7 linked regions of the Homo sapiens genome follow. Changing the gene in region 3 together with the main gene of any one other region gives a genetic interaction. Each region holds a gene or a part of one and is shown on either strand. Other genes may lie near its edges.

Region 1 (4,495 bases), on a different chromosome or scaffold from region 3:
GGTTCCAAACTGAAGCTAGGCCTATGATTTTTCGGTAACACTGTCGACAATTTAAAAGGTGAATAACTAATGACGTTGTTGTTTCTAGGTCCTTATCAACTAGGTTGTGGATTAAGCAGGCCACTCTATGGTAAAGCTCTTGTTCTCCCTGTTGTCCCTAGACGAGAAAAACTAAATGTGGCTAGAACCAAGCAATCCTGTTTTGTTTTGCTTTTTTTCCCCTCTGAGACAGGGTCTCACTTTGTCGCCCAGGCCGGAGTGCAGTGGCACAAACATGGCTCACTGCAGCCTCAACCTCCCAGGCTCTTCCAGGCTCAAGCGATCTTCCTGCCTCAGCTCCCAAGTAGCTGGGACTACAAGTATGCACCACCACGCCCGGCTAATTTTTGCATTTTTTGTAGCAATGGGGTCTTGCCATGTTGCCCATGCTGGTCTCCAACTCCTGAGCTCAAGCAATCCACCTGCCTCGGCCTCCCAAAGTGCTGGGATTGCAGGAGTCGGCCACCGCGCCCAGCACAATCCAGTTACTAAGCATGCAAATCCACAAACATGCAGAAGTCCAGGCTGAAAAGGCAGTTTATGGCAATTCATTTCCAATCAAACCCACAGACTTACCTAATAAAATCAATCTAAAATAAAGTAAAGTTAGTATATACAATGCCACCTGAATACAGGTTATCAGTGCCTTACCTCTCCACAGTATTCTGAGATGAATTCATTTTTCTGCACAGGATCTTTGATAAAAATCCCCCAGCCTGCCACGTCAGATGGTGCCAGCAATAGATGCTAGAGAATAAAACACAATCACATCATCAAAAAAGGAGGGTGAAAATGGACTGGGGACAAAGTAGACTACAGAATGAAAACAAAAGCTATCACTGTAAATCCTCAGACCTGTTTGTTCTAAGGCAGTAATTGGGCACACAGCTTCAGTCAACGTGAAAGCTGCTGAGAATGGCTATGAACATTATGTTTTCCTTATACAGCAGATAAGAATCTCTGTCTTACAGAAAACCTTTTGGTGGTGTTGGTCCTCTGCAATGACCATCGTTCAGCAAGGTGCTCTAGGCCTGCTGCACTTTTGGCTTCCCTGTATCTTCAGCCCTTGATTTCCTCGAGTAATTCACTTTCAACCTGAATTTAATATAAGGACACCACCAAATCACTCTTCCTCTCCATACCTTTCCCTCTACTTTCCCCAAGTGATTCTATTAATAGTTATTCCATTTTCAGCCCCAGGACACCCCCTGATTCTTCACTGGCGTTGGTTCCCTCTGAAGCCCATAGCAGCTTGGCTTTGGATTTGTTCTTCCACCCCACCTCCTCAGGATAACACAAGAAACTACCGGGAGGTGTTATCATGATCTTGTCAGTCCAGTAGTCTATTTTCAGCAGAAATGCCAAGATGATCATTGCTATAAATTATGTATTTAGGGATGTGTTCCCCAACATATGCCAATTTTTCATCACGGCTCAGTATTATGCTTTCATCCAAAATTTTCTTGTGACCTTTACAAAGGCTTCCTATCTATTCCTATTCTGGACCATCTTACCACTCACCTGTCATGTGAACTTCCCAAATAGCCTTCTGATCAGAAACTAAATTAGCTAAATACTGCTATGCAAATGAAACCCAACTGGTAAAAGGTATCTACATAGTTTAACATTTTTAAGAGTTAAAAAATGTCTTACAAAGAGGACATGTCAGTATGAATAGAATTGCCCACTTTCTGAACAAAGTGAGGAAGGAGTACAATGGTAAGTTGTTTGGGGGGGAAATTGAGATTTTTAGGTCTGAGCAGGTATGCCATCGGAAACGGAACCAGAGTCACTGTGATCCAATGACCTAAATGGACATATAACTGCCTAGAGTAAAATCATCTAAATGTCTAACAGAAAAGAAAAAAGTCAAAGCTAAAAACAAAAAGCCCACCACCCTGCACAACTCTCTGCCATAAACACAGACTTTGGTTCAAAGACACAAACAAAACCAAGAGAACTTCAATGTTTTGCCTGGAGCAGAATTTCTGGTAGAAGGGGACTTGCTGGTAAGAAGTGTGTTCTCAATTATAAATAAATGGTCCAACAACAAAGATATGTCTACTCTACACCCCACATACACACACACACACACACACACACACACACACAGAGCATAAGAGCAGGTTAATGGGAGCCTGGAGGATTTGATCTCCTGCTCCTTTACAAGTCTTGTGACTTTGGGTTTCCTTACCCGTAAAATGGGGGTTAACACTTACTCCTCACTCACAGGGTTAGGAGAATCAATGAACAAATCCACTAAAGCACTCACAACAGTGCCTATTTTTACATGCTTAATAAATGTCAGCTATTATTATAAAAAGAACTGACTGAAGAAAGAACTTATCATCTGCCCTAAAAAAAAAAAAAAGATACGAAATTTCCCAAATACATGCTGCTGAAGTGTCTTTTGCTCAATCATTACTTCCTGGCTGATAGAGTTAACTCACCTACATACAATTCCCCAGACTAAAAATATATAGTTCCTAGCTGGGTTTTTTTCAAGGTTATTAAACAAACAGGAAGTAAGTCTATAAAAACCTGCCATGGGAAATTTCATCTTTTACTCTACATAGCAAGGAATCTATAAATACTCTTTGATGAGAATGAGTCTATATTTTGATAGAAATCACCATTTATTTGCATTAAGGATACTAGATAAACTATTAACTAAAAGACAAATTCAAATAATCTATTAAACAGGTAGAAAAAATACCTCTTATTCCTAAATCTGATACCATGAATGGCTACTTCTCAGAATTTGCTGGTTTCTCCTACTATCAGAGTATGGTGCTCTATATAAAACTGAAGAGACTGCCCAAGGGTGCATTACCCAGAGAAAATTATGAACACTTTCTCATCAGTTGCACCTTTCAAGGATCACTTTTACTTTTTGCCCCAGCTAAATCATCTAAGGCAATCCTGACATTTGCATCACTAAATAGCTAACTACAAACAATCTTCCAGAAGTGACTTGTTGCTCACCTTTTTGGAGCCCCGCTGAATACTGCAGTTCTTGCAGGACACATTTTTACTGTCCCAATGGTCAGCGGCTCCACAAGTAAGACAGAGGTCAGGGTCACACTCTCGGACAGCCAGGTAGCACGGGCACTGCTTGGTGTTGCACTGTGCTTTGCAGCGGCATCCCGGAAAGCGGTTTTGACCTTCAGAGAGAGGTTTGGAGGTTCTTCACTCATCACCGTATGCAAAAACTTGCAGAAAGATACGTGGCAAGGGCTGTACTGGGCATCTCACTGACTCTCAACCCTCACAACCACCTTATTACCCTACTATATAGACAAGGAAATGGAAGTATTAACAGCGAAGTTATAGCTGTTTGCACTGAAAAAGACCACCACTGAGTTGTTTTTCCATTTTTCATTTGTTAAATAGTGTATATATTTAAAGTCGGTGTGAATAAAGGGTCTGGATGGAACAATATCCATGGTCCTTGACCATTCCAATAGCCCCTAGTTCTAAACACTCCCTTAATACCCAAGCTTCATGTGCAGTCTCATTAAACAATTATAAAAATCTACTATGTTTATGCTACATTCCTTTAATCTGAAGACTAAAACCCTCCTAACTCTGACGATTTCTGGTGCCCAAAAATTATTTGGGTAGCTCCTTCTAGATTCCTCTTACAATCTGTGCCAACTTTAATACAACTTAATTTAAATGATCAAAGAAGAAAAAAATAAAATTCAGGTTCCTTTAATACAACTTTGCCTGCCTCACACACACAGACACACAACACCCAGGCGACTGACTGGCCACTGGCACAGGGCCAGGTATGGGGCTCAATAAATACTTGTCAAATTGATGAGTTTCGTCAAGTAAACAAGGGAGTGCTCCCATGTTCTTATTTTTGATTTTTTAAATTGCTAACCAAAGACCTATTTAGTTCTCATGCAATTGCATCAAAGCAACAAATACTTACACTCTGAACTACATTGACAAAACTTTTCACAAAAATTTTGTGCTATCACACAAGGGCACGAACTGTCACAAGGCTGCCGTGGATGATCACAGGGTTGATAGTTGTAAACATGGTTAGAGGAGCCGTCTGAGTAAAGATAACATCATGCAGGCCAATGAATCCAGGGAGATGGAAACGATCATACACAATTAACACGAGTACATTCTTCCCTACTACCTGTGGAGTGTAGCTGGCCTGCCTTTACTGAATGCATAACATTACACATATTCCGGTTTCCACAACGATGGCAAAAAATACTCTCCCACCCCCAAGTGCTTATGAGTTCCATCTAAAGCACGGCTACATCTCAGTCCCATCCCAAAGCACTTCTCCTTCAACTGACTCGGACTCACACCTTCCAGTCAGCCTCCACTTTACAGAAGAGAATTGACTGGGGATTCATCAGTAGACGTCCTCCATTCAAATTGGTTTAACATACAGAAGGCAATTATATTAGAATAACCCAAGCTCTAATCC
Region 2 (4,495 bases), on a different chromosome or scaffold from region 3:
ATCTTGTATACACAGGAAATCAAGAAACATTCATTAACTGATTCATATACCTTTATAAATAAAGTGAAGTGCTTTCGCATGTTATTTAGGAGAACAAGAAGACAATGGAGAGGAAAAATGGAGAAAGAGGCTACAGCAAGTGTGCAATGTGTCTTAACAGAGCCATTAATATGGCTCCAGGCAGAGGATTCTCATCAGATGCCTCCTTCTGTAGCCTGCTCACTCCTTCTCAAAGTAGCAGTTACCGTTTTCCAGGTCTAAATGCTGTGATTGACTGTTGGCCTATGGGAAATGCCCACGAGCTCACCAGGGTCCAGAAGTTCATAAGAACACTCGCGTTCAGCACGCTCAGGACTTTGGGAAGGTGAGAGCAATGTCACTGTCTTTATCCTTAGAACCCCTCACTTGCACAAGAAGGTGCTCAATAAACAAGTGAATGAACAGGATCAGGGGTTGCAAAAGAAATGTCGATAAGGAGATGAGCTTAAGGCAAAGAAAGCTTCATCCTTAGTACAGTCGGCCCTCGGTATCTGTGAGATTGGTTCCAAGACCACTCCTCCCAATACCAAATTCCATAGATACTCAAGTCCCTCATACAAAATGGCATAGTATTTCATATAACCGATGTACATCTTCCCATACACTTTAAATCATCTTTAGATTACTTATAATATCTAATACAATGTAGAAACTATATAAATCGTTCTTGTGCTGTTTTTTTGGTTTTGTTTTTTGAGACAGAGTCTCACTCTGTCGTCCAGGCTGGAGTGCACTGGCTCGATCTTAGCTCACTGAAACCTCCACTTCCTGAGTTCAAGCGATTCTCCTGCCTCAGCCTCCCGAGCAGCTGGGATTACAGGTGTCTGCCACCATGCCCAGCTAATTTTTGTATTTTTAGTAGAGACAGGGTTTCGCTATGTTGGCCAGACTGGTCTTGAACTCCTGACCTCAGATGATCCGCCCACCTCGGCCTCCCAACGTGCTGGGATTACAGGCATGAACTACCACACCCGGCCTGTGCTGTATATTTTATTTGTATTATTTTTTATTATTATTTCAAAATTATTTTTAACCTGCAGTTGATTGAATCTGCAGAGGTGGAACCCGTGGATACAGAGGGCCAACTGTACTGATACCAAAGGTTCCAGTGGGAAGAGCAGCTGGTCATCCGGCTCTCAGTCTAGGACTATTACTGACAGCCTAGCACTTGCGTGCAAGTGGCTAGCAGACTGGGTGTTAACATGCTGAAAAAAGTTTAAAGTTATAAAATACTTAGGAGTATTAGAAAACTAACACTTCCTAAGTTACTGAAGGAATCCTGAAACACAATTTATATCTTTTCACGACATCAGAAATCATTTCTAATGGTTGGCCATTAGGAAACCAAATCAATAACCAATTTAAGAAGGTAGAGATCATACAATAGAAGAAAAAGCATCACTGAATATAAATATCACCATCATCTTCATTAAAGGATTTTTTGCCATAAAGATGCAAATAATTCAGAGGAGCCATTCCCTTTCTCAGGGCATGAACCCCACTGAGAAAGAAATGGACTGAAAGCTATCCACAGCCATCCTAGGGATCCACAGACACAGCGTAAAGTTCCCTGGGCCATGTTATTTCATCAAAGTACAACCTTAGCTCTAAACACTAACTCTGAAAGAACAGCAGTATGTATATAACTCTGAAAGAACAGCAGTATGTATAAAATATTTACTGAGGAGAAAAAACTAGTTTTGCCTAACTTCGAAGGTAATAATTTACAGTGATTTAAAATAACCACCTGAGATTTTTTTACAGCATATATTATTATTATTATTATTTATTTTTTGAGATGGAGTTTCACTCTGTTGACCAGGCTGGAATGCAGTGGTGTGATCTCAGCTCACTACAACCTCAACCTCCCGGGTTTAAGTGATTCTCCCATCTCAGCCTCCCAAGTAGATGGGACTACAGGTGTGTGCCACCACGCCTGGCTAACTTTTGTATTTTTAGTAGAGATGGGGTTTTGCCATGTTGGTCAGGCTGGTTTTGAACTCCTGACCTCAGGTGATCTGCCCACCTCAGCATCCCAAAGTGCTGGGATTACAGGTATAAGCCACTGCACCTGGCCCATACTTAACAGCAAATATGATTAAAATTAATAAATATACAAATACTCCAGGGATTTACTAGAATAAAAGCCATGGTGCTTTCTAAGCCCAAACTGTGGTTACAAATGTCATTAAAAACCTAACTTAATAAATAAGAGAAGAAAACAAAAACCATAGTTAAGGACAATAATTCTCCTTGTGTGCACATTAAATGTGTATGCCTTTTCTCCAATTTAAAAACAAAAAGAAATTAATTAATTAATAATATCATCTTACCTCACCAAGATAAATGACAATTTGAAAGAAAGTATCCATCAGCAAAATTCTGTCAGCTAGAATGCTGCTGCTATCCAAGAGTACTGGCTGAAGAAAAAGAGAGAGAAAGATGGCATTGGTCTTCCCTGCTCCCCACACAGCAACCACTTCCACCCGACCCTGATCCCATGCCTGGTATCCACAGCAAAGGCTATTTACAAATGGTGCCCAGCACAGTAAGTCACCCCTTTTCTTCCTGACATACTTCCACTTTCTGCTTCTGACTCATTCTCAACTTTGTAGGAAAAATAGGCTCCAAATAATTCCTCATCAATTGAGAACGGAGATTAATGATACCTTTTTTTTTTTTAAGAGTCAGGGTGTTGCTCTGTTACCCAGCCTGGAGTAAAGTGATGTGACCCTGGCTCACTGCAGCTTCGACCTCCTGGGCTCAAGTGACCCTCCCACCTCAGCCTCCTGAGTAGCTGAGGCTACAGGTGCATGCCACCACGCCCAACTAATTTTTTATTTTTTGTAAAGACAGGGTCTCACACTATGTTGTCCAGGCTTAATGATATCTTTTGATCTTGGAACGAAAAATAATTCTGAATATTCTCAGTTTTGTATGTATTTTAGCAATCTCTACAGACATTCTCTGTAGATGAGACAGAATACGGATACCTATATGAAAAGCAGCATTTAATACAAGTTTTTAAAGTTTACTACAAAATATAAATTATGGCTGGGCGTAGTGGCTCATGCCTGTAAACCTAGAACTTTGGGAGGCCAAGGCAGGCAGATCACTTGAACCCAGGAGTTCAAAGCCAGCCTGGGCAACATGGCAAAACCCCATCTCTACCAAAAACACAAAAAATTAGCCGGGCTGTAGTGGCACGTGCCTGTGGTCCCAGCTATTCAGGAGGCTGAAGTGGGAGGATCACCTGAACCTGGAAGGCGGAGGTTGCAGTGAGCCAAGATCGCACAACTGTACTCCAACCTGGGTGACAGACACCCCATCTCAAAAAAAAATACGTTTATTATTTATTTGTAAGTAATATTTTATATTATATAAGTATATAATTTATATTTATATATACATATATAATCATATACATATATATTTATATACATAGTTCTTATATATACATATATAATTTATTATATTTACATATACACATATAATTTTTATATATGTAATTATTTCTTTTTTATTTTTATTTTTTGAGAGGGAGTCTTGCTCTGTTGCCCAGGCTGGAATGCAGTGGCGCGATCTCAACTCACTGCAGCCTCCGCCTCCGGGGTTCAAGTGATTCTCCAGCCTCAGCCTCCCAAGTAGCTGGGATTATTGGCGCCATTCCAAGCTAATTTTTGTATGTTTAGTAGAGATGGGGTTTCGCCACATTGGCCAGGCTGGTCTCAAACTCCTGATGTCATGTGATCCCCCTGCTATTTTAGTAATTATTTCAATAATAAAAGTAAGTGGTACTCGATAAAGAAAATTTTTAAATGTGTACCCAAGTACAACAAATATTGATATTTTGTTTTTTTCCATATAGTTCTTTATTTTTGCAGGGAATATTTAGAAACGTTTCTATTTTGACTTTTTTTCATGTAACATTTTTACATAAGGACTTATCTATTTTATTATGTTACATACTTTTTGTGAATACTGTTGGCCCTCCGTATCGGTGGGTTCCACATCTATAAATTCAACCAATCTTGGACTGAAAATATTTGAAAAAAATATGCATCTGTACTGTACATGTACAGACTTGTTTTCTTGTCATTATTCCCTAAACCATACAGTATGACAATTATTTACATGGTACTTACATTATATTAGGTATTATAACTAATCTAGAGATGATTTAAAGTATATAGGAGGATGTGCCAAGGTTACATGCAAATATTATGTAATTTTATATTAGTAACTTGAGTATCTAAGAATTCTGGTATCTGAGGGAGGTCCTGGAACCAATCTTCCATGAATACTGAGGGTCAACTGCATTTCTCAGGTTACTTATTTATTTTCCTATATTAAACATTCGGATTGTTATTTGATCCTCTATTATAGTAGTTCCTTTACTATTTTTTTTTTTGGCACAAAGTCTACTCTGTATCTAGGAGTCTTTCCTTCAGATACA
Region 3 (4,495 bases):
CTCTCCATCTAAAGTAGTCCTCCCCACCCCTACAATTACTTTGAAGCTCATCACCCTATTTATTTCCTGGATAGCACTTATTAAAATTATATTCTTCATTTGTTTACTTGTTTACTCATTGTCTCTATGTAAGTTCTTTGAGGGCGGGTACCTTGTCTTTCCTGTCACTTCTATATCGCCAGCATCTACAACAGCTCTTAACATACTGAAAGCATTCAATCAACATCTGTTGTGTAAAAGGACAAAGCAACTGAATTATTAACTATATGCATACTTAGGTTATAGTGACAAATGGTAACAGATGTTGACAACTGATAAATGTGCATTTTGTTCAAGGAATATAATTTTGAGCTTTGTGTGGGAATGAATTATGTAAATTAGAAAGGTTTCCTGCTGTGTACTGATCATATACAGTATATTCTTCCGGTGGCCTGTGGTTTCCCTTTGGTAATAAATAATTCCTTGTTCAGTAATTCTTATAAAAATTCATAAGCAAATAAATGTTTTTATTTATCACATTAATGCAAAAGCTCAAGAATAGTTGTTTTTTAAAAAGCCTCTCAGATAGGTGCATAACTTTGGGCTGGCGTTCATTCTTCCCACTTAGCTGACATTTCTGAATCTTGATCCCAAGGTCTTTAAACATTTTATCTGAATGAGTGTACTCTCTGAATTTAACACCAAATGTTCTGCATCTCAACCTTGGACTTTTAAAAGATGATTTTTTTTTCTGTTCTGTACCAAATTACAGAAAAAAATTTTTTAAAGGACAAAGTGAAAAAATACACTTTATCACATAAAAGAATCACCTATGTATCTCAAAACATTTTTCTCATTCAGAATCTCATTATGTTTATAAAACACTATACTTCCAAGGCTCTTAGATGTTTATTAACTGAAATAATAGAAGAATTATGTCAACAGTAAAATTTTCACATTAATCTATCCAATAGGATTCAAGTATATATGTTAGCCCCTTAGATAACATGTGTTCCAACAAAAAAAATATATAATTTTTAACTAGGTAGAATTTATGTATACAGTATTTAAAATTTCAGGTTGGCCTAAATAAGTTGTTCTGGACAAGTTTTGTTTTTATTAAAAATTAACCACTGGATTAAGATGACAATTATTGCTTCCTTTAGTTAATACTCAAAAAGAAAGCCATCCTTTGCTCCTGTGTAACAAATGGCCTTTATTAATTAGGTCTCTCAGTTTGTGTGCTGGCAACATTTGGCAAAGTCCAGTCCTCACCAAAAATAGTAACAACCTGCTCTGGATGGCAATCAAGCAGCAAGCCTATTTTTGGCCTCAATGTTTGAAACACCAAATGCCAGATGCCATCGAACAGAACCTTAAATGGCATAAGTAAACTGGTCTGATACTGAAATACAGAAGGATTTGAGGCTCTCCAAAACACTTGTTTCTTTAGTACAAAAGAAATAAATGTTTCAGACTTAGCAGGGGAATTCATATCTAATGCTGACATATGTAAAACCAAAAGAATCTTAACAGAAGAAAGGAGCAGCAGAATGCTATAACCTCAGCTTTAGTCCTTAACATTACTCTAAATTTTCTGTTTGTTCAGTATTTCTGGCTTTTATTATTAATATCTTTGTTAGCTTACCTGTCTCTGAGTGTGCTGGGGCCTAAATAAGGATATAGGTTTTCCTTAAGCCTTCCTTTGATGAGATGATCCAGGGTTTCATGTAGGAAAGGTTGATGCTGTGTATATACATTTTCTACTCCCTAAAACAGGGGAAAATGGTTCTTATGTCATTTTTGGGAAATTGGCAACACAAGAATTAATAATATTCATATCAGAAAAGGACATACACTCAATAGAGATTTCATGGGATAGATTTACGTAACTGTGGGAAATTTAAAAATTATTTTAATCAGCTAGAAATGTTCTAATCTCATAAAAATTACTCTGTAATTTAGGGCTAGTTATTGTAAAGGATTTTTTAAAAATGGAATTGCTTAAATCCTTAATCATGTCTTCACTGTCTCTCACCCTTTTGTGAAATGTTAAATGATAGGTAGAGCAAATAAAAGGAAAGGATTATGTATAAAAAAGACTGAAAATACCCAGGAAAATAGAAAAACTTCAGGAAACATAAGAAAGGCTGCCGGGCGCGGTGGCTCACGCCTGTAATCCCAGCACTTTGGGAGGCCGAGGCGGGCAGATCACAAGGTCAGGAGTTCGAGACCATCCTGGCTAACACGGTGAAACCCCATCTCTACTAAAAATACAAAAAAAAATTAGCCGGGTGTAGGTGGTGTATGCCTGTAGTCCCAGCTACTCGAGAGGCTGAGGCAGGAGAATGGCGTAAAACCCGGGAGGCAGAGCTTGCAGTGAGCCGAGATCACGCCACTGCACTCCAGCCTGGGAGACAGAGCGAGACTCCGTCTCAAAAAAAAAAAAAAAAAAAAAAGAAAGGCTAGCAGATTAGAATTAATTTTTGAGTATTTTAAGAAAACAGGTTAGTATTTTTAAAAGATCAAAAGTTTGCTTCATCTTTAATTTCCTTCAAAGAGAAACTACCTAAAAAATCTTTAATTATAAACAAATGGTGTAAAATATCTGTGACTAACAGAACTGTTGGTCTTTTTCTTCTTATTTCCTGGAAATACCTCCAGTTATTTCCTGCTAAGCTATTTGGTCCAATGTTGATACGGCTCTAAGACAGAAAGCACTAAAAGAAAAAGCTTTCAAGAGGATGCCAGTTTTAATTTCATTTAACTGACACAGTACTAAATTAGCAGCAATCTTCAAGATACTTTGAAGATCATATTCATTCACTCTCAGCCTCAAGGACTTCAACTGTTCTCACTCAGGAGAGCATAGAGGAGATGTCTATACCTTCAGTCCTTTGAGGAATTGTTTGGTGATAGCCACAGCATCTTTGGGGCTGAAGAGGTCACTTCCTCTGACTCGTTTACCACCATATTCAACAACTGCAGACACGAGCTATTAAGAAAGAGAAGCAAATTTTGATTGCTTAGGCATCAGGAAGCCCATTTCATAAGAAAATAATTTTATTAAGGAAACAAAAATGAAAAGACAGAATTATACATTTCTGTAAATAAAAATAGTATGATTTATCATTCGTTAGAGCTAAGAATATAATAACAGAGTTGGTTCCTGTTTGGTGGGCTAATATGGAAACTGGTTACCTTTCGATACTTCTCAGAAACACCTTTATTCCTGAGGTCCATCATTAGTCCTGGCAGGCTATTGCTGCTGTGTCGCTCATAATGTAAAGCATAAAGCATCACCAGGCGGGCAGCATCAAACTCTGTCACTTTGGGGTTCTGCAGAAGCCTTTTTATATTCTGAAGAAAGATAGAACTTATATTTATCCCCCTTTCACTTGAGTCATCTGTTGTACAATGCCTTAGATCTAATAATTATTGAATGGTAGTGATACATCACTACTATGACAATTATAAGTCATACATTTAGCAACTGTCTCAACTATAGAAAATTAAATGCCTTTTGTCCAAGGTAAGAATTAAATAAGGAAATATATTTCCATTGTAATTGCTTTAGGACAAAAATGAATTTAATAATGGATAGTTCCACTTTTCTTTTCCAATAGCTGAAGTTGTAATTTCCTTGCTGAAAGAACACTTACTATTTCCACGACTTGAATCAATACGGCACAACAAAACTGACTAGTTGATTTGCAAAACCTACTGCTTTCTCTTAGTATTAATGATTGACCAGTGAAATGGAGACAAGTTGGTAGAATTTTACACAGACTGGGCTTGATCTCTAAGAAGCATCAGAACATGTCTCAACATGGTTGACAGAGATGAGTATGTAATAGCATGTAATCTCTAGATTTAGTACTTAATGATTTTAAGAGGCAGGTACCGATAGGAAAGGGGGCCAGGAGAAGCCATGTTTACATTTTTTAATCCTCATATTCAGGACCTTCCATATAGTATAGATTTATATTTATTATGCAGCAGAACAAATAATTTAATTCAAGTCAACAAATACTTTTGAGTCCCCATAAGGCAGTATGTCATGCACTGTTGCAGGCACACAGATAAGTTAAAGACAATTCCTGTCCCCAGTGAGTTCACAGTCAATGGGGTGAAGGATGATCAAAGTAATATAATTTATTCTGCTATATACATGTTTCTTTAATGTACTTTAGTTCTGTGAGATGGATAAATATGGAAATGGTGTCAGTTTAACACAGAAGGCATATTGGTTCACATGTAATTTTTCCAGAATGGATAGGCTTTCTTATGATTAAAGGGGAAGCCTTACCAATACCTTAAGAAAAAAAGATGATAATCCTACAGAAGTGTGTTCTGCAAGAAGTATCTGGTTTTGTAGCTTCAAGAACTGTTGCACTTTCCACTGTGTTATGCTATATGGGGAAAGGGCAAGTGCAAATAAAAAGGATGCAAATATATTGCACTGTGTAAAAAAGCAAAACAAAACAAAATAACAATCAAACACTGATTGATGAAG
Region 4 (4,495 bases), on a different chromosome or scaffold from region 3:
ATGGTCTTGATCTCCTGACCTCATGATCCGCCCACCTTGGCCTCCCAAAGTGCTGGGATTACAGGCATGAGCCACCGCACCCGACGAGGTCTGATGGTTTTATAAGGGGCTCTCCCTGCTTCGCTTAACACTTCTCCTTCCTGCTGCCTTGTGAAGAAGATGCCTTGCTTCTCTTTCACCTTCTGCCATGATTGTAAGTTTCCTGAGGCCTCCCCAGCCATGCTGTGAACTGTGAGTCAATTAAACCTCTTTCCTTTATAAGTTACCTAGTCTCGGGCAGTTCTTTACAGCAGTATGAACCTGGATTAATATACCTAGTAATCAATCCATTACCAAGTCATGGAAGGTCTACCTGCAACATTTTCTTTGTAAGCCACTATCATCTCTTGTCCAACAACTGCCAACATTTCCCAACTAATTTCCCTAATTCCATTGAACATACCAACAATGTTCATAAAGAAAGGCGAAGAGGATAAGACAGAAATGTGTATCTGTAACAGGAGATATTTTGGTTTTGTTTTGTTTGAGAAAGAGTCTCACTCTGTCACCCAGGCTGGAGTGCAGTGGCGCGATCTCAGCTCTGGAGGCTCCTGGAGGGTGGCACGCCCGGGGAGGGCATGGAAACTCCATGCTCCTTCTCCTACACCTCGCCCTATGCACCTGCTCATCTGTACCCTTTGTAACATCCTTTGTAATAAACTGGTAAATGTGTTATCCTGAGCTCTGTGAGCCACTCCAGCAAACTGAGCCCAAAGAGGGAGTTATGGAAACCCCTACCTGGAGCCAGTTGGTCAGAAATTCTGGAGGCCTGAGGCCCTGACCTGCAGCTAGTGCCTGAAAGTGGGGAGGCAGATTTGGGACTGAACTAGTGCCTGAAGGGAGGCAGGCTTGGGGACTCAGCCCTCAACTCATGGAATCTGATGCTATCTCTGGGTAAATAGTGTTGGAATTAAATCAGAGGACACCCAGCGGGTGTCTGCTGCTTGGTGTGTGGGGAAGAAACCCAACACATTTGGTCACAGAACTCTTCTGTGGTCATGATTGTGGTGATGTGAGAGCATAGGAAGCACACAGTTTGCATTTTTCCCAAACAATGCCATAAAATATATACAAACCTTTCCATATGGTAGATCACAAAGAAAAAAACCTCATTCTTTTTTTTTTTTTGAGACAGGGTCTCCCTCCGTCGCCCAGGCTGCAGTGCAGTGGCGCGATCTCAGCTCACTGCAACCTCCACCTCCTGGGTTCAAGCGATTCTCCTGCCTCAGCCCCGAGTAGCTGGGATTACAGGCACGTGCCACCATGCCTGGCTAATTTTTGTACTTTTAGTAGAGAGGGTTTCACCATGTTGGCCAGACTGGTCTCTGACCTCAAGTGATCCACCCGCCTCGGCCTCCCAAAGTGCTGGGATTACAGGCGGGAGCCACCGTGCCCAGTCGAAAAAACCTCATTGTTAACCAATTATGAGGTCAGAAAAGGAAATCAAAACTGAAATTGCAGCATGGGTAAAATACCAAGAAAACACTAAATTGGTAAGGGCTTGGTGAATTCTATGGATGAAATGGATAATTTGCTACAAAAATAGGATTTACCAAAATGGATTGCAAAAAACAAGAAAACAGAAACAGAAAAACTAGAGAATGTTGTGAAAGAAAGGTCCTACTCCCCTTTCCCCTCCACACAAAGGCATCTGGCCCAGATGTCCAGGGGTGTTGCGGCGGCTTGAAGGACAGCGCCTTCCAATTCTCTGTGTAAACACTGCCCCAGCAGAGAAACGAGAACAGCTCTCACACAAACTTGATGGAACAAACATAACACTGTTATGAAAACATAACAGAAATACCTCACATATACACATTCATATCTCTTATGAATGGAGATGCAAGGATGAATTAAATAAACAAATGGAGATGCACAAATAAGCAAACAAAATCCAGCAGCATATTAAAATAATAATTGATAAACACAAAAGGGTTTTTGTTTCATGAATGCCAGGATGACTCAAAATTAGAGGATCTCATAATAATTTGCCATGTTAATAGATATTTCAACATCTATTCTTGATTTTTAAAAAACTCTCAATAACATATGAGCAGCTAAATATTTCCCTGACCTCCAAAACTCAGTATCATGTTTACCGAGGCAGTGCTAGAAGCACTCCAATTAAAGTCAAAACATGGCAAGGACAACCTTGATTGCCAATGTTATCTACATTGTTCTGGGGCATTAGCCAACTCAGCTAGAGTCACGAGATGTATTATGGAGATACACAAATTGGAAAGGAGGGAGAAGTATCACTATTTGCAGATGATATAATCAAATAAATAGGCCAGCCACGGTAGCTCATGCCTGTAATCCCAGCACTTTGGGAGGCCGAGGCAGGCAGATCACTTGACGTCAGGAGTTTGAGACCAGCCTGGCCAACATGGTAAAACCCTGTCTCTAGTAAAAATACAAAAAGTAGTTGGGCGTGGTGGCAGGTGCCTGTAATCCTAGCTACTGGGAAGGCTGAGGCAGGAGAATCGCTTGAACCCTGGAGGCACAAGTTGTAGTGAGCTGAGATTGTGCCACTGCACTCTAACCTGAGTAATAGAGCAACACTCTGTCTCAAATAATAATAATTGAATAAATAGAAAGCCCTAAAAAAAAAAAACAAAAAAAAACACCCTGTAAACGTTACTATAAACAATAAGAGATACCACTTTTCACTTCTCAGATTGTCAAAGATTGAAAGAGGTATTCTCTTCTTTGCTGGTGGTTATGCAAACTGATCAGCATTTACAAAGAAGAATCTGGAAATATCTAACTGCAATCACTTGTGAGCCTTCACACACCCACACCTGGTCTGTGTGTGGCTCTGGGACTGTAGGAATGTTCTCCAAGCAACACTGGGAATCTACCCCACTTGGGGAGACAGCTGGAAGGGTGAGTAAGGAGAAAAGCATTGATGTCAATTTGACAAGAAACAAACAGAAACAAAAAATGCAGGAAAAAAATATTAGAGAAAATATAAGAGAAAGAACTGTCTGAGACAAAGAATCTACAGGGCTCACATCTGTAGAGCTATTAAGGGATTTTTTAAAAAATTACATGGAAAGGTAGATTACGTATCAGCAAAATGGACTTTTCATTTTAACAACACAGTCCACAAGAAAGGATCATTTAGCCCTCTTAGAGATGATTTCATAGAAAGGAAGGTTACTAAGGAATAAAATCACATGATGTGAAACATCTATATTACTTTTGGGACCATAGGGACCATTGCCTGCATTTTGTTGGGGAAATCATAATTATTTTGAGTTTCTTTGCTTGAGATAGGGTCTTGCTCTGTCTACAGGCATGGTGATGCACACTTATAATCCCAGCTACTCAGGAGGCTAAGGCAGGAGAATCACCTTAACTGGGGAGGCGGAGGTTACAGTGAGCCAAGATGGCATGCAGTGGTGCAAACACAGCTTACTGCAGCCTTGAACTCTGGGGCTCAAGTGATCCTCCTACCTTAGCTTCTGAAGTAGCTGGGACTACACACAAGCGCCATCACACCCGGCTAATTTTTTAATTTTTGTTTAAATTTTGTGTAGAGATGGGGTCTCTCTATGTTGCCCAGGCTGGTCTCAAACTTCTGGGCTCAAGCAATGCTCCCACTTCAGCCTCCCAAAGTGCTGGGAGCACAGGAGTGAGCCACTGTGCCTGGCAAGAAAATTTTTCTTGCCAATTCATAGATGGTGAACTAAAGGACATAGCAAAGGCAGCGCTATGCAGTGAAAAACAATAAAAGCAGAGCCGAGGCTGAGGTTCGTAAAGGGATCATGGGCTACTGATCTAAGGGAGACAGACAGAGGCTTGGCAGTTGATGAGGCATTTGGTCTTCACCCAGTGAATTACTGGTTTTGTTTACAGGCCATGTGACACAATCTCCTTCCAGGTCTGCCAAAAGCTACCATGAAAAGAGCAGACTCTTTTGGTAGTGGGTGTTTGAGCCCATGACACTTAGGGGCTACCTCAAGAAGGAAGCTTGAATCCAACTTCTAAAGGGTAAAATCCAAACACTAAGTTGTTAGGAAAATAGAGTAAAAGAAAACCCAACAGTGCTGTGTGCTGTCATTGTCGCTGCCTTCCCAGCCATGGAGCCATTACACTGGAGATAAAAGTTGTACCATATCCAAAAACAACAGTGAAAGCATCCACACCATTCAGTCACAAAGACTACACTGTTTATCTTTGCATTTCAAGCTTGTTAAGAAAAGCAGGCTGGGCACAGTGGCTCACGCCTGTAACCCCAGCACTTTGGGAGGCCAAGGCAGGTGGATCACCTGAGGTCACCTGCCTGACCAACATGGTGAAATCCCGTCTCTACTGAAAATACAATAATTAGCCAAGTGTGGTGGCAGGTGCCTGTAATCCCAGGTACTTGGAAGCCTAAGACAGGAGAATCACTTGAACCCCGGAGGCGGAGGTTGCAGTGAGCCGATTGGGCCACTGCACTCTAGCCTGG
Region 5 (4,495 bases), on a different chromosome or scaffold from region 3:
GATTACCTCTGCTGCCTTGAATACAAAGCATTTCATATTGCTGTCACTCCTGCGTAGTGCAAACACTTTCCAATGAAGTAGACAGAACTTCAGAAAATACCCTAAGGAGCCATGTTAAAAACGACCAAGACTTGTTCAACTAGCAACAAAGATGGCCCCTAACGCTGCAATAAGTTTAAACTTTGATCCTTAGTTCTAAGTGAATCAATCCCAATTAAAATGCAGGACTTCATCTACTGTATTTTATTAACATAGTTGAGTATCTTAATCCTAGCTGTGAACTAAATATTCAGCACCCCAAGGCTGAATATGGTATTCAGTTTAAAACACCTACTCCACAACAGAAGTCTCCTTGCTTTCACATTGGCTTCCACCAAATTGTAAAATTAAATGACAAGCATAAAGTTATACAACTCAGCATAGATAACTATCCAAGTGATATGCAGTATCATTCAGGAATTTAGGCTCCTTTGTGGGACATTTTATCATCTTTTAAAGCAAGTTAAGTTTAGAGGCAATAAAGACAAAATGCCGGGGTTTAAACCCTACTGCTGCCTTTTTTTAAGACAGGGTCTCACTCTGTCTCCCAGGCTGGAGTGCACTGGCTCCATGACAGCTCATTGCAGCCTTGACCTCCTGGGCTCAGTTGGTCCTCCCACCTCAGCCTCACCAGTAGCTCGGACTACAGGCACCCACCAACACACCCGGCTAATATTTTTGCAGAGATCAGGTTTTACTATGTCGCCCAGGCTAGTCTTCCAACTCCTGGGCTCAAGCTGCCCACCTCAGCCTCCCAAAGTGCTGGAATTCCAAACATGAACCACTCCACCTGGCCCCCTGCCTCTTACTAATTGTGTAACATTAAGAAAAAATATTAAAGTCCAAGATTGTTTTCCCATCTGTAAAAAGAGCATACCTCAGATATTTGCAGAGGGTTAAAACTAGTTAACACACTTAAAGGACACAGAATAGTCTGACACACATCCTAAATGATTGATAGAAGTTACTATTTTGAAGGGGTAAAGCACTATAAGCACTATCTAAACATAATTTAATAAAGCAAACTTTTTATTTACTCAATGGCTTAATTTTTTAAAACTGCATAGGCTTTATAAACTTTCCAACATTAAAAGGAAAAGGCCACAATGAGTTTTATATAAACATATTCTAATATTTTCAATGCTGCCAACTTGAAATAACCCAGAAATTTTTAAATAGTCCATGTAAAAAAATATATAAACTAAAAATTAGGTGGTATTTCAACTAAGACCCTTTAAATGTAGCTTCCAAAATCACCTTGATGACTTGGTCTACCCTACATTTATGCCAGTAATTTTAGTAAAGAATAATTTAAAACATAAAAGGAAATATACATGGAGCAATCCTGGCTGGTGGAAAATGTTCCGATTTAATAATCCTGGCTTTTCCCCATCAATAAACTTATTCTCTGGACTATTTAGGTCACTAGGTTTTTAACATTCCCAGTCAATATTAACTATTTTATTCCAAGATACCTCCCCTAATAAGTCTTTATTGTCAAACACCTTATTCAAGGTAAAAAGTTAGCCATTATACTCACTCCCAATTTTGGAATAGTATTCTTTTTCTATGTTCTATAACTTCGTATTATTTTTACTTTTTTAGAGACGAGATCTTGCTCTGTTACCCAGGCTAGTCACAGAACTCCTGGACATAGCGATCAGCCTCCCAAAGTGCTAGGATTACAGGCATGAGCCACCACACCCAGCCAATCCTTTAACTTTTAAACACTTCCTAACAACTTATGATCTTACATACATGGCTTTATAACAAGTTCTGACAGTTTAAAAAATACAACAGAATGTCAACCTGATATACATTTCAGGTATAAAACATAAATGACCAATCACTGTCATCTTTTAAAGTAATGTTACTCAAGCACACCATTAAATCCTTACTGAATTTTTCCAGTATTTTATCCATCATAATTATTCTTCTAAAATCCTAAAATGACAAACTAAAGCTAAGTCACTAGTTACCTAAGGGGAAGGGAGGAGGTTACAATGCAACTAGATAATATCACACGTTAGGGTATTTTACAAGTTGTATGAAAACTACCTTGGGAGAGAGCTTGACAAGCTTTCATCGAGTTCAAATACTAACCAGCCTTTTTAGATCTGATCTGGTATAAAATTCATGAAAACCACTTTTTTGAGACAGAGTCTCGCTCTATTGCCAGGCTGTGGTGCAATGGTGTGATCCTGGCTCACTTCAACCTCTGCCTCCCAAGTTCAAGCAATCTTCCCATCTCAAGCTCCTGGGTAGCTGAGACTATGGGTGCACACCACGAGGCCCAGCTAATTTTTTTTTTTTTTTTTTTTTTTTGTAGAGACAGGATCTCATCATGTTGCCCAGGCTGGTCTGGAACTCCTGGGTTCAATCTGCCCACCTCAGCCTCCCAAAGTGCTATATTACAAGCGTGAGCCACCGCACCCAGCCCACTTTTTTTAACTATTTAAAACTAATGAGACATTAAGGTTAGCCAATAACAAATCTTCCCCAAAAAACACTTTAGTCAATAAAAATATAAATTTTGGTATTATTTCCCCATCATTAAAGAATAGGTATTCCTCTCCCCCAGCTTTCTACAGATGACATTTTCAAGGTAAGTGTGAAAAAGAATTCCATTTATTCAAGACTAATATACAATGGACCAAACATTTTCAGAGACTTCTCTGTATTAAATCTCATTACTTCACACTTTAGAATGAACCTAACTAAATGACTACTAAAAAGCGAAGTTGAAAAAATAAACATCTAATAAATGAAACATGACAGTTTTTTTGGGAGGGGGACAGAGTCTCGCTTTGTCGCCCAGGCTGGAGTGCGGTGGCGCGATCTTGGCTCACTGCAACCTCTGCTTCCCGGGTTCAAGCTCTTCTCCTGCCTCAGCCTCCCAAGTAGATGGGACTACAGATGCCCACCATCATGCCCGGCTAATTTCTGTATTTTTAGTAGAGACAGGGTTTCAACATGTTGGCCAGGTTGGTCTCGAACTCCTGACCTCAGGTGATTCGCTTGCGTCAGCCTCCCAAAGTGCTGGGATGACAGGCATAAGCCACCGCGCCCGGCCAACATGACAGTTTTTTAAATAAACTTTTTTTTTCTTTTTTTGAGACGGAGTCTTGCTCTGTTGCCCAAGCTGGAATGCAGTGGTGCAACCTTGTCTCACTGCAACCTCCGCCTCCAGGGTTCAAGTGATTCTCCCGCCTCAGCCTCCTGAGTGACTACAGGCGCATGTAACCACACCTGGCTAATTTTTGTATTTTTAGTAGAGCTGGGGTTTCGCCATGTTGGCCAGGCTGGTCTCCAATTCCTGACCTTAGGTGATCCACCCATCTTGGCCTCCCAAAGTGCTGAGATTACAGGTGTGAGCCACTACGCCTGGCCTAAAAATAAAACACTTTAAGAGACCAGGTCTCACTATCAAAATGCAGTGGCTCCATCATAGCTTCCTGCAGCCCTGAGCTCCTTCCTGGGCTCAACACATTCTCCTGCCTCTGCCTCCTGAGTAGATGTAACTACAACTACAAACACACCCCCCAACACACTAGCCTTTTTTTTTTTTTTTTTTTTAAAGAAACAGGGGTCATATTATGTTGCCTAGCTGGTCTAGAAATCCTGGCATGAAATGATCCTCATACCTCAAGACTTCTGAGTAGCCAGTGATTACAGGCACGAGCCACTACTTTAATTAACTTTAAATGCTTAATCCAATACCTCCTTTTCACTTCACTACAAGGAAGCAATGACATCTTGTATGTTTACGTTTTAAATAAGCTCTCAATCAGCTTTGTAAGGTAAACTCCCATTTACCTAGAGGTTAAGGAATAGGTATTTTCCTTAACCTGAAGGTTAAGGTTCTGGTTAACTGAGATTACTACATATTCACAATTCTATAAAACTGTGTACTGGAAATCAATTTAGGTATCAATGCTGAAGTCAGAAAATGATTTGTACCTTGATGAATTTTCCAACGTTTTAAAATCATGTTACTTTTCAAAAGTGTAAGGAAAAATCTGTAGGAGATTCATTCCATGACATTGTCTGTTGGTTGCTTTTTGAGTATATTTTCTCATGGCTTCATCTATCTTGCTCATAAGACTAAATGGGGAGACAGACTTCCTGGCTGTGTGGGCTCTGTGGTAGTCTGAAGTCTAGATAAGCAGGAGTTTACAGTGCAAGACCCAATACTTAAACTGTCACCTTGATTACTGGCCAAGCACCACCAGTAAATTGGAGTCTTCCCTCCCCACCCCCAAATATTCTTAAATACCTAGCTCCAACGTACAATATAATACTCCAGAAACTAAAACATGCTTACCTTTACTCCACAGGAGTAAATCACTGGCAGTATCAACTATTAGGGCACTGGATAAATACACACAAGCTATGAAAGCAGGCTATGTAGTCAATCCTCCTGTGGTGAGCATTGTTTCCAACACATAGATCAGCA
Region 6 (4,495 bases), on a different chromosome or scaffold from region 3:
GGGGTGCCACACAACTATGTTCTTACTGAAAGGAAACCACTGTACACAGTTCTTTAAGGGTCAATCGCTCTTTAGGAATGACTCAAAAATGTATAAAATCCACTCCTAAATCCAAAAAGAACCGAGAAATACAGAAGTGTGCAGAGAACCCACAGAGGGATCACGTCCATAGAGGGAGTAGAGTCTACTACGCTGCCAGACACTGCAGAGTCACGGCACAGAAGGAGTTTAAAGGACAGTGCCAAGTGAAAACCGCGCAACAGCACGACAAAATCGAGTAGGCTCAACGATTTCACACACACCCTTGACGTGTTTCTCCAGATGTTCTCCGTAGTTCTACAGCCAGCCAACAGAAGATTACCTGAATGGGATTCTTCTGTGCTTAATGTTTTCGAATGGCCATCTTAATGCTTATGTTGAACTCAAGGTAGCCATTCTGCCTGGACTCAATGCCCTTCATGGAGCTCCCCAAATGATTCCTAAGGGTTCTGGCTGGAGAGGTACATGCGGGGCTATGAGCGCTGCAGTGACGACTCAGCCAAAAAGATGATGAGGGGAAGAACTCCTGGTGTTAAAAGAAATGCTCTAAAGCAGCTTACCAACACAGAATGCAAGCCACATCTGTAATTTTAAATTTTCAAGTAGCCACATTAAGAATTAAAAAGAGTCGGGCATGGTGGCTCACACCTGTAATCCTAACACTTTGGGAGGCTGAGGCGGGCGGATCATCTGAGGTCAGGAGTTTGAGACCAGCCTGGCCAACATGGTGGTGAAACCCCGTCTCCAGTTAAAATACAAAAATTAGACGGGCATGGTGGCACATGCTTGTAATTCCAGCTACTTGGGAGGCTGAGGCAAGAGAATCGCTTGAACCCAGGAGACGGAGGTTGCAGTGAGCCGAGATCGCGCCGCTGCACTCCAGCCTGGGTGATGAGAGCGAAACTCCGCCTCAAAAAAAAAAAAAAAGAATAAAAAGGAAACAGGCAGGTGAAATTTAAGAACACATTTTACTTAATCTAATATATCCAAAATGTTATATTTCAACATGTTATCAACATAGTAATTATTAATGAAATGGTGTACAGAGTTTTTGCTATACTATGTCTTGGAAATCTAGTGTATATTTTACACCTAAAGCAGTCCCAATTCGGACAAGCCACAGTTCAAGTACTCAATAAGCCACGTGGCTTACTCAATAAGCGGCTACCACACTGGACAATGCAGGTCTAAATGGAATCTACGCAAACCAAGAGGAAGTTCTGATTCAACTAGAAAATCTCCAAGAAATATGCCCATGCCTGAGTTTTCAGGACAAGGGGAAGGGAAGTCAATTTCCCGGAAAGCAGTTACCAATTTTATATAAGTACTCCATTGTGAAATCACAAGGAACATCAGCAGGGCTGGGATGGTCAAGGAGAAGGCTGCAGGGCGTGGCCTTGGGGAAGCAGGTGACCAACCAACAGGTGATATCAAGGCTCTGTCTGTCACCAGCAGAGCCCACCTTCTAACCATCGTTAACATTTTCACGGTGCTTTTCCTTCCTCCTTTTCATCTTCCAACAGCCCTATGAGGAAGGCAGGCTTTACCCCATTCCACATATGAAGAAACCAAGGCCCAGGCAATTTAAATAACTTGCTCATTTCTAGTCGCCACTCTTAGACTTGGACCCAGAATGCAGGCCTCACCCCTACCCCAGGGGTCTTCAATCAGTAGCTCATCAGAAACAGCCAAAAACCTATGGCAAGACCAAAGTAACTACCTACCTAGTTCGTGAACAACTCTCCACTTAATGACGTTTCATATGGCACCTCCCTTCTCTAAAGAGCTTATGAGTTTTCAAAACATCCTCATGCCCATATATGATCACCACTAAGGGATGTACTGGACTGCCCTAGAAATATCCTAAAAAAGCCCAACTACAGCCCAGAAGGGCTGGCCCATCCAAGGTCATTCCTGGCCCTCATCACCACATTCAACATCTCTTTTCTACTCCATGCTGCCTCCCTTGATAACACCTTTTACTTTTCAGATAAAATTTTTAAATGTCAAGGTTATTTAAAAAATATATTTTGTTGTTTTCTCAAACCAGTGGGTAACTTAATGATAGGGCAGTTTTAATCAACCACACAAGTGACTTTAGCATAAGATCTCCCTCCAACTCCAGCCAACCTTAAAGTGGCCTGACTGCATTCTCAGAGCTCTACAAGGTACTGGCTGCAGCCAGTGGGACCCCTGCCCTCACTAATCAATGTTCACATACGCACTGATCCAATTCTGCAGAATAGAAAAGTGCGTGGCAGATCAGGGTACACAGATCCTTTTCCTGCCTCAGGACTGGTTGAACGGGAACTGAAGGGCTACCTGGGAGGTCTGTCCTTTATTTACTTTACACACTTCACCCCTGTGGGGTCTCGCCTTTTATTTATTTTAGGCAAGTCTAACAATTTGGGGTTTCTTGGTTCTTCATAACTAGAGAACATGGGTTCCTTACATCTTTAACTGGGCCAACACTTAAATAATAGCTATTTATAGCTAACACACTGACTTCAAACCAGTGAGGAAAAGCTTCCTAGCCAATATACATAACTATTGCTGAATGCAATAAGGTGAAGGCTCAGAGTCACATTTTAATACCAAACAGCCTGGTTCTTAAGGAACTGATCACATGAAGGCAAGAGCTCAGTTATTCTCAAGGGAAAATAAGCATATTGCAGATAAATATACAAGAAGCTTCAAAATACCACCATCTGACCCCCAGAACAGTAAATACTTTCCAAAGTTCCTTCACTCGTGAAATCTTAAGATTTTCACAACTGTTCAGTAAACAGGTATAAAAGAACGAAAACAGAATCCCAGAGGTTTAAAAATGCACCCTGCTACACAGCTACCTGCAAGTACAGCCTGAACCTGGGACTTGCAGAAATGGGTCCAGAGGTCTCCCACCTGGGCCAGGTGCTCTGTCATAACCAGGACACCTGAGTATCATAACATCATCACTAGGACCTAAGGACCACTTTCACAGGATATGAGTTAGTGCTTTACCTTCCCTTTATTTAACCATATTCCAAGTCCATTCAAACTAAGGAAGTCCTGCAGAACAAAAAATATCACTTCGCACAAAGGATGAAAGAGCTGACACATAAGCAGCCCCCAGCTGCCAAGGCTCAGGGACTTCCAAGCACACCAGGTCACCTTTCTCATCAGGAATTCAAAGCTGAAGGTCAGCAAGTGTCTAGCCCAGGAGTGTGCTGGATTATTTCTAACATGTGATTTGAACAGTCTTGACAGCAGCCATGATGGCCTCCAGCCACGCCACAGTCCCGCAATCCAAGAGTCCCAGATGCAAAGGAAAGCCAACCAAGACCCCCACTGGGAACCACTTCCGCACAGCAGGCATGCCACGTCCTAAATGCAACACGACTGCACCCTGCCCAGCGGAACTCGTGCACTCAGAAGAGAAGGGAGGTCAAGGAGGAGGAGAGGAGAGAGAGAGGCAGAGAGAAAGCAGCAGTCAGCATCATTCTTACTTTTCTGGCAGCGGTTTGTGGTCCAGCAGCGGTAGTTGTACTCATTGTTGATGGTGGTCTTCTCACACATCGGCTTCTCCTCCATGGTCCCTGGACACAGGTCCCCACATTCCTTTGGGGGCTTATTCCCCACAATGTAGTTATTGGACACCGCATCCAGGATCAGGGACCAGTCCACAGTGGAGAGGTAACAGAGGTCAGCATTTTTCTCAATCCTGATGGCCCCCCGAGTAATGTTCCTCAGGTTGTAAAGCCCAATATCCTTGAGATTGGTCATCTCGAAGATGACCAGGGCGTAGTTGTAGAAGAGTTTCCAGCCGCGGATGACCGTGAGGTTGGGGAAGAGGTCTCCGAGGCTCTCGAGGCCAGCCACTCGGAACAGCAGCAAGTACTCGGTAATGACCGTGAGCTTGGGGAAGCGGTAGCTGCGGTAGTCCTCGGCCTTGGAGATGAGCAGGATGTGGAGGTAGCCCTCGATCACCGTGCAGTTCTCCAGGCGCTTCAGCTGCTGATAGTCGTTGCGGATGTCGATGCCTGGCCCGCAGACTGAAGGGAGACAAGAGGGTAAACGTCTCAGTTAGAAGGAAATAATTTTTAAACTATTTTCCAAACAATAATACAGTTGGTTTTCAGGAATCCTGTATTATTATTAAAGAAATGAGGTTCAATTGTTCACTGCAGAGCTGTGGGTTGCAGACTGACAGTTTAGGTGGCTAACCAGTTAGCTGGCATTTATACAGTGCCAACACTGGACCAGACGCTGTGCAACACACTCCAACCGACCATGGGAGAGGCCATCCCCGTTAACCGTGCAAACTAAAGCTTACAGCCCAGAGGCACACAGAGGCAGAGGCGAAAGTTAAATCTGCAACCCAGGCCAGCCGGACTCCACCACCGCACACTCCTGGTCCGTTCTGCAGAGCGTCAGTTGCCAAGGCCTGAACGACAGCTCAGCAGCCAAGTATCAA
Region 7 (4,495 bases), on a different chromosome or scaffold from region 3:
GGTTTAAAAAAAAAAAGAGAGAGAGGAACATACTGTAGCACATGAGAATTATATAATTCAAATTAAGGAAGTTTTATTGGAACACAGCCTTGCCCATGTATTTATGTATTGTTTGTGACAGTGAATTTGATTAGGGAAAAATGAGAGTAGGGAACCTATTGCTGATTTAGGTTTGTTTGAGTGATGAAAATTTAGGTTAGGGTGATGGCAATAAAAAATGGAGAAAGGCAAATGTGACTGATGTTAGAATGAAGATAAAGTTGCAGGAGGCTGAGGAAGAGATAGACAATGACAATGATCCATCTCTTTTGTTTTTGTGCAACAGTGGCAGAATTGAACAGTTGCAAGAGACCAAATAACTGCAAAGCCTCAAATATTTACTGTCTAGCTCTTAAGAAGAAGTTTGCTCTTTTCATTCTTGGCTCTAGAATGTCATCTGGAAAAGAGCCTTGGCGCTTCTGTCCTGAACAGCTCTGTTACCAGTTTATATGCAAAACACCAGTTTAAGCAGAAGTGGTATGCAGTGGAATGCAGAGATCTTAGCATTGCTGACAGGGTACACTTTAGAATCATAACCCAAACCTAGTCCTAGTAATAGAATTCTGTCAGTGGCAAAGAAAGGCATGTGAAAGGTGGTACACTGTTACCTGGCCCTTTCTAAGTATAATATGCTTTTCTAACAAATTTCATTCATTCAACCAGTGTTTACTTATTAAGTAGTAATCATCTATATAGAGTTCTAGTATCTTTATTTTATTTATTTCTTTTTTTGAGACGGAGTCTCACTCTGTTGCCGAGGCTGGAGTGCACTGGCACGATTCGGCTCATTGCAAGCTCCACCTCCCGGGTTTAAGCAATCCTCCTGCCTCAGCCTCCCAAGTAGCTGGGACTATTTTGTTTCTTAACCTATAAGATTAAGAGATGCTTCCTTTGAAATTCTTCTTTGGTATTTCCCTTGTTAGAATTTGATTAACTAATCAATGGATTTTTGATTAGTTGGAAAATTGAATGTTAGTTTTCCAATAACAACAACAGCAACCAAAATAACTAACATTGAATACTCTGGGCCAGATGCTATGCTCTTTACATAAGTTATCTCATTTAATCCTCATGAAAACCCTAAGAAATACATACTTCATTGAACACATTTTAAAGATAAGGCTGGCATGTAGAAAGGTTAAGTAACATTACTAGATCCAGCTGGACCTGACTGTAAAGCTCATACACTCAACCACTACACTGTTATTGTTGTTGTTGTTTATAGTATTTTATGTTTCCTTGTTTCCAAATATAGCTGATGGTGTTGCTTTGGGAGCAGCAGCATCTACTTCACAGACCAGTGTCCAGTTAATTGTGTTTGTGGCAATCATGCTACATAAGGTAAGCAACATTTTGGTGTAAGGTTTGGTATTGAGTGTATTCATAATTAAAATTTCTCATGGTCCTTAATGTTTTTCCTGGAATGGGAACATTTTCTTCATTTCATAATTGCTATTCATTTTGGAAAATTGAATAAATCTGTTCATAGCTTCTTGTTCCCATTTTCTTAAGCTTTTCCTTGAGGGGTTTCAATTTTTTTGTGTAGACATATACACAAATTGTCAAATTCTCCTCAGATTTTTATATTTCATAGTAATAATTTCTGTTCAAAAGTATTTTTCTTTTCTTGACTGTTTCTCTTTTTTACTATCCAAGAAACACACAAATAGGATCTTTTCTTGGCTTAGAACATTAATTCCTAAGAGGCATAGCTCAGCGTTTGTACTCTGCCTGGTTTTGTTTTTTGGTTTTTTTTGTGTGTGTGTGGGTTTTTTGTTTTTTGTTTTTGAGATGGAGTTTGCTCTTGTCACCCAGGCTGGAGTGCAATGGTGTGATCTCGGCTCACTGCAACCTCCGCCTCCTGGGTTCAAGCGATTCTCCTGTCTCAGCCTCCCAAGTAGCTGGGATTACAGGTGCCCACCACCACACATTTTTGTATTTTTAGTAGAGACGGGGTTTCACCATGTTGGCCAGGCTGGTCTCGAACTCCTGACCTTAGGTGATCCACCCACCTCGACCTCCCAAAGTGCTAGGATTACAGGCATTAGCCACTGTGCCTGGCCTTTTGTGAGTTTTTCTTTGTATGAGAAATCATAGTCAAATGGCATATACTTCTTGATGTAGAAGCAACCCATACTTCTAGAATGATAATAAGAGATGATTTTTTATTTCCAGGCACCAGCTGCTTTTGGACTGGTTTCCTTCTTGATGCATGCTGGCTTAGAGCGGAATCGAATCAGAAAGCACTTGCTGGTCTTTGCATTGGCAGCACCAGTTATGTCCATGGTGACATACTTAGGACTGAGTAAGGTAAGCTAATCTATTCCCAGCTATCTAAACCAGTGTCTTGTGATCTCTTAGAATTTATGATCTCTTAGATTGAATTTTTCCAATACATTACTCTCTCAAACTAAAGATAAAATTAGGAGTAAAAACTATACAGGGTAAATATCTTAATTCCAATGCGTCCTCTTCATATTAGCATTTTCTTATTCATTTAATTTGAAAACTTCTTCCCTATCAATCAGTTCCAAGAATATTTGCATAAATATGATAGCGCTTCAATATTTAAAATAGTATAACGTAACCAGCCATGCTAGCTTCATTTGACAGATATCTAATAAGTCAAATCTGTCCATATTTAATGTGAGGTAGACACCTGAAGCGTGAGTAACAAGCCACATAGCCGCTTTGAGAAGAGCAGCAGCTGGGCAGAGATTGCTGTCAAGAGTTTAAAAAACTGACATTGATTACTGAAGTGATAGAGTAATCTTTTAAAGGGAACAACATACTGCTCACTGAAAGAAGAGAAGGCTTTTCAGGTAAATGGAAAGGGTTTTTATAACACACTGTTAGCAACTAAGATCAACAAACCCTTCCTTAACGGGAACTTAGCCATTCTTGGTCTCATTTTTCACGTTCCTCCTCTTCTCCCAGCTCTCACGTCCCCAGATAGTAACTGTACAGTTCTTTCTATTGAATACTTTGTACTGAACATAGCTTCAGACCTGAGGTAACATGTGCTCTTCTGACTCCAAGCTGGACCTTCCCATGCCTTATAATCCTGTCTGTAGCTCTGAGCAACAACCCTCCGCATTTTACCCAGATGTCAACTGGCAGGCAACTGGAGGAAAATCTTAGAAGCAAACTGACTCAGGGCTAGTTGATGGGAACTGCTTTCCCCAACACCCTCTCTAAAGGTCATTGATTCTTCTGAGCATCAGTCAATTCAGTATTTGGCAGTAAAACCCATATTAATAGGAACATGTGAAAAATGAGATAAAGAATGGCTAAGTTCCTGTTAAGCAAGGGTTTGTTGATCTTAGATGCTAAGAGTGTGTTATAAAAACCCTTTCCATTTACCTGAAGAGCCTTCTCTTCTTTCAGTGAGCAGTATGTTGTTCCCTTTAACAGATTACTCTATCACTTCAGTAATCAGTGTCAGTTTTTTAACCTTTTGACAGGAAGGTGCTGATAATTCTGGAGACATGGAGTTACTTGCTGCATCTATGGGATGTCCTTTTCTTAAAATTTTAATTAGTTGTCTTAGTCCATAGGTCTACTTTTTTAACAGAAAAGGTTGAAATTAGTTTTATAAAGATTAGCTTATGAGATATACATATATATACACACACACACACACACACACATTTTTTTTTTCCTTTGAGATGGAATCTTGCCTGTCACCCAGGCTGGAGTACAATGGCGCAATCTTGGCTCACTGCAACCTCTGCCTCCCAGGTTCAGACGATTCTCCTGCCCCAGCTTCCGGAGTAGCTGGGATTACAGGCGCCCGCCACCATGCCCGGCTAATTTTTGTATTTTTAGTAGAGACAGGGTTTCACCATGTTGGCCAGGCTGGTCTCGAACTCCTGACCTCGTGATCCGCCCACCTTGGCCTCCCAAAGTGCTGGGATTACAGGCATGAGCCACCACGCCCGGCTGCTTAAGAGATATTTCTAGGCTCTATGAGGTCAACTACTGCATCTTGATTACCACTGTATCTCAAGCACCTGGCCCAGAGCCTGGTGCATAGATGATGCTTGTTAAATATTAGTAGAATAAATAAATTTATGTCTGAAATTTAATATCTGCAATAATATATTGTTGATTCTATCTCAAGAATAATACAAGCCAAACCTGTTGAACCAGCACTTAAAGTTCGTTTTAAAAAGCAATTGTGAACCAGGAGCAGTGGCGCATACCTGTAGTCCCAGCTACTTGGGAAGCTGAGACAGGAGGATTGCTTGAGCCCAGGAGTTCCAGGCTGTAGTGTGTTATGATTGTGCCTGTGAATAGCCACTCAACTCCAGCCTGGGCAACATAGCGAGACCTCATCTCTAAAGACAGATACAGTCAATGAATGGATGGACAGAATGATGGAACTGTGGTGAATATAGTTTAATAATAGTGTGTGGTACATATCAAAATTGCTAAGAGTAAATTTCAGATGTTC

Evidence for each region.
Region 1: changes in VPS45 (region 3) and EZH2 together harm fitness less than expected from each alone (positive genetic interaction), as found in Homo sapiens cells (one large-scale study listed by BioGRID).
Region 2: changes in VPS45 (region 3) and SEC23B together harm fitness less than expected from each alone (positive genetic interaction), as found in Homo sapiens cells (one large-scale study listed by BioGRID).
Region 4: changes in VPS45 (region 3) and VPS51 together harm fitness less than expected from each alone (positive genetic interaction), as found in Homo sapiens cells (one large-scale study listed by BioGRID).
Region 5: changes in VPS45 (region 3) and HNRNPD together harm fitness less than expected from each alone (positive genetic interaction), as found in Homo sapiens cells (one large-scale study listed by BioGRID).
Region 6: changes in VPS45 (region 3) and IGF1R together harm fitness more than expected from each alone (negative genetic interaction), as found in Homo sapiens cells (one large-scale study listed by BioGRID).
Region 7: changes in VPS45 (region 3) and SLC39A9 together harm fitness less than expected from each alone (positive genetic interaction), as found in Homo sapiens cells (one large-scale study listed by BioGRID).

What each region holds. Positions count from the first base shown.
Region 1 is NC_000007.14:148,810,935-148,815,429, forward strand, and holds part of EZH2 (histone-lysine N-methyltransferase EZH2), read right to left. Parts: intron 4,106-4,495; coding exon 3,980-4,105; intron 3,204-3,979; coding exon 3,025-3,203; intron 787-3,024; coding exon 691-786; intron 1-690. UniProt on the Homo sapiens protein: Polycomb group (PcG) protein. Catalytic subunit of the PRC2/EED-EZH2 complex, which methylates 'Lys-9' (H3K9me) and 'Lys-27' (H3K27me) of histone H3, leading to transcriptional repression of the affected target gene.
Region 2 is NC_000020.11:18,549,053-18,553,547, reverse strand, and holds part of SEC23B (protein transport protein Sec23B), read right to left. Parts: intron 2,460-4,495; coding exon 2,373-2,459; intron 1-2,372. UniProt on the Homo sapiens protein: Component of the coat protein complex II (COPII) which promotes the formation of transport vesicles from the endoplasmic reticulum (ER).
Region 3 is NC_000001.11:150,090,781-150,095,275, reverse strand, and holds part of VPS45 (vacuolar protein sorting-associated protein 45), read right to left. Parts: intron 3,340-4,495; coding exon 3,181-3,339; intron 2,975-3,180; coding exon 2,867-2,974; intron 1,750-2,866; coding exon 1,628-1,749; intron 1-1,627. UniProt on the Homo sapiens protein: May play a role in vesicle-mediated protein trafficking from the Golgi stack through the trans-Golgi network.
Region 4 is NC_000011.10:65,102,061-65,106,555, reverse strand, and holds part of VPS51 (vacuolar protein sorting-associated protein 51 homolog), read right to left. Parts: intron 1-4,495. UniProt on the Homo sapiens protein: Acts as a component of the GARP complex that is involved in retrograde transport from early and late endosomes to the trans-Golgi network (TGN).
Region 5 is NC_000004.12:82,363,432-82,367,926, forward strand, and holds part of HNRNPD (heterogeneous nuclear ribonucleoprotein D0), read right to left. Parts: intron 1-4,495. UniProt on the Homo sapiens protein: Binds with high affinity to RNA molecules that contain AU-rich elements (AREs) found within the 3'-UTR of many proto-oncogenes and cytokine mRNAs.
Region 6 is NC_000015.10:98,707,140-98,711,634, reverse strand, and holds part of IGF1R (insulin-like growth factor 1 receptor isoform 1 precursor), read right to left. Parts: intron 4,074-4,495; coding exon 3,528-4,073; intron 1-3,527. UniProt on the Homo sapiens protein: Receptor tyrosine kinase which mediates actions of insulin-like growth factor 1 (IGF1). Binds IGF1 with high affinity and IGF2 and insulin (INS) with a lower affinity. The activated IGF1R is involved in cell growth and survival control.
Region 7 is NC_000014.9:69,453,518-69,458,012, forward strand, and holds part of SLC39A9 (zinc transporter ZIP9), read left to right. Parts: intron 1-1,294; coding exon 1,295-1,380; intron 1,381-2,214; coding exon 2,215-2,349; intron 2,350-4,495. UniProt on the Homo sapiens protein: Transports zinc ions across cell and organelle membranes into the cytoplasm and regulates intracellular zinc homeostasis. Participates in the zinc ions efflux out of the secretory compartments.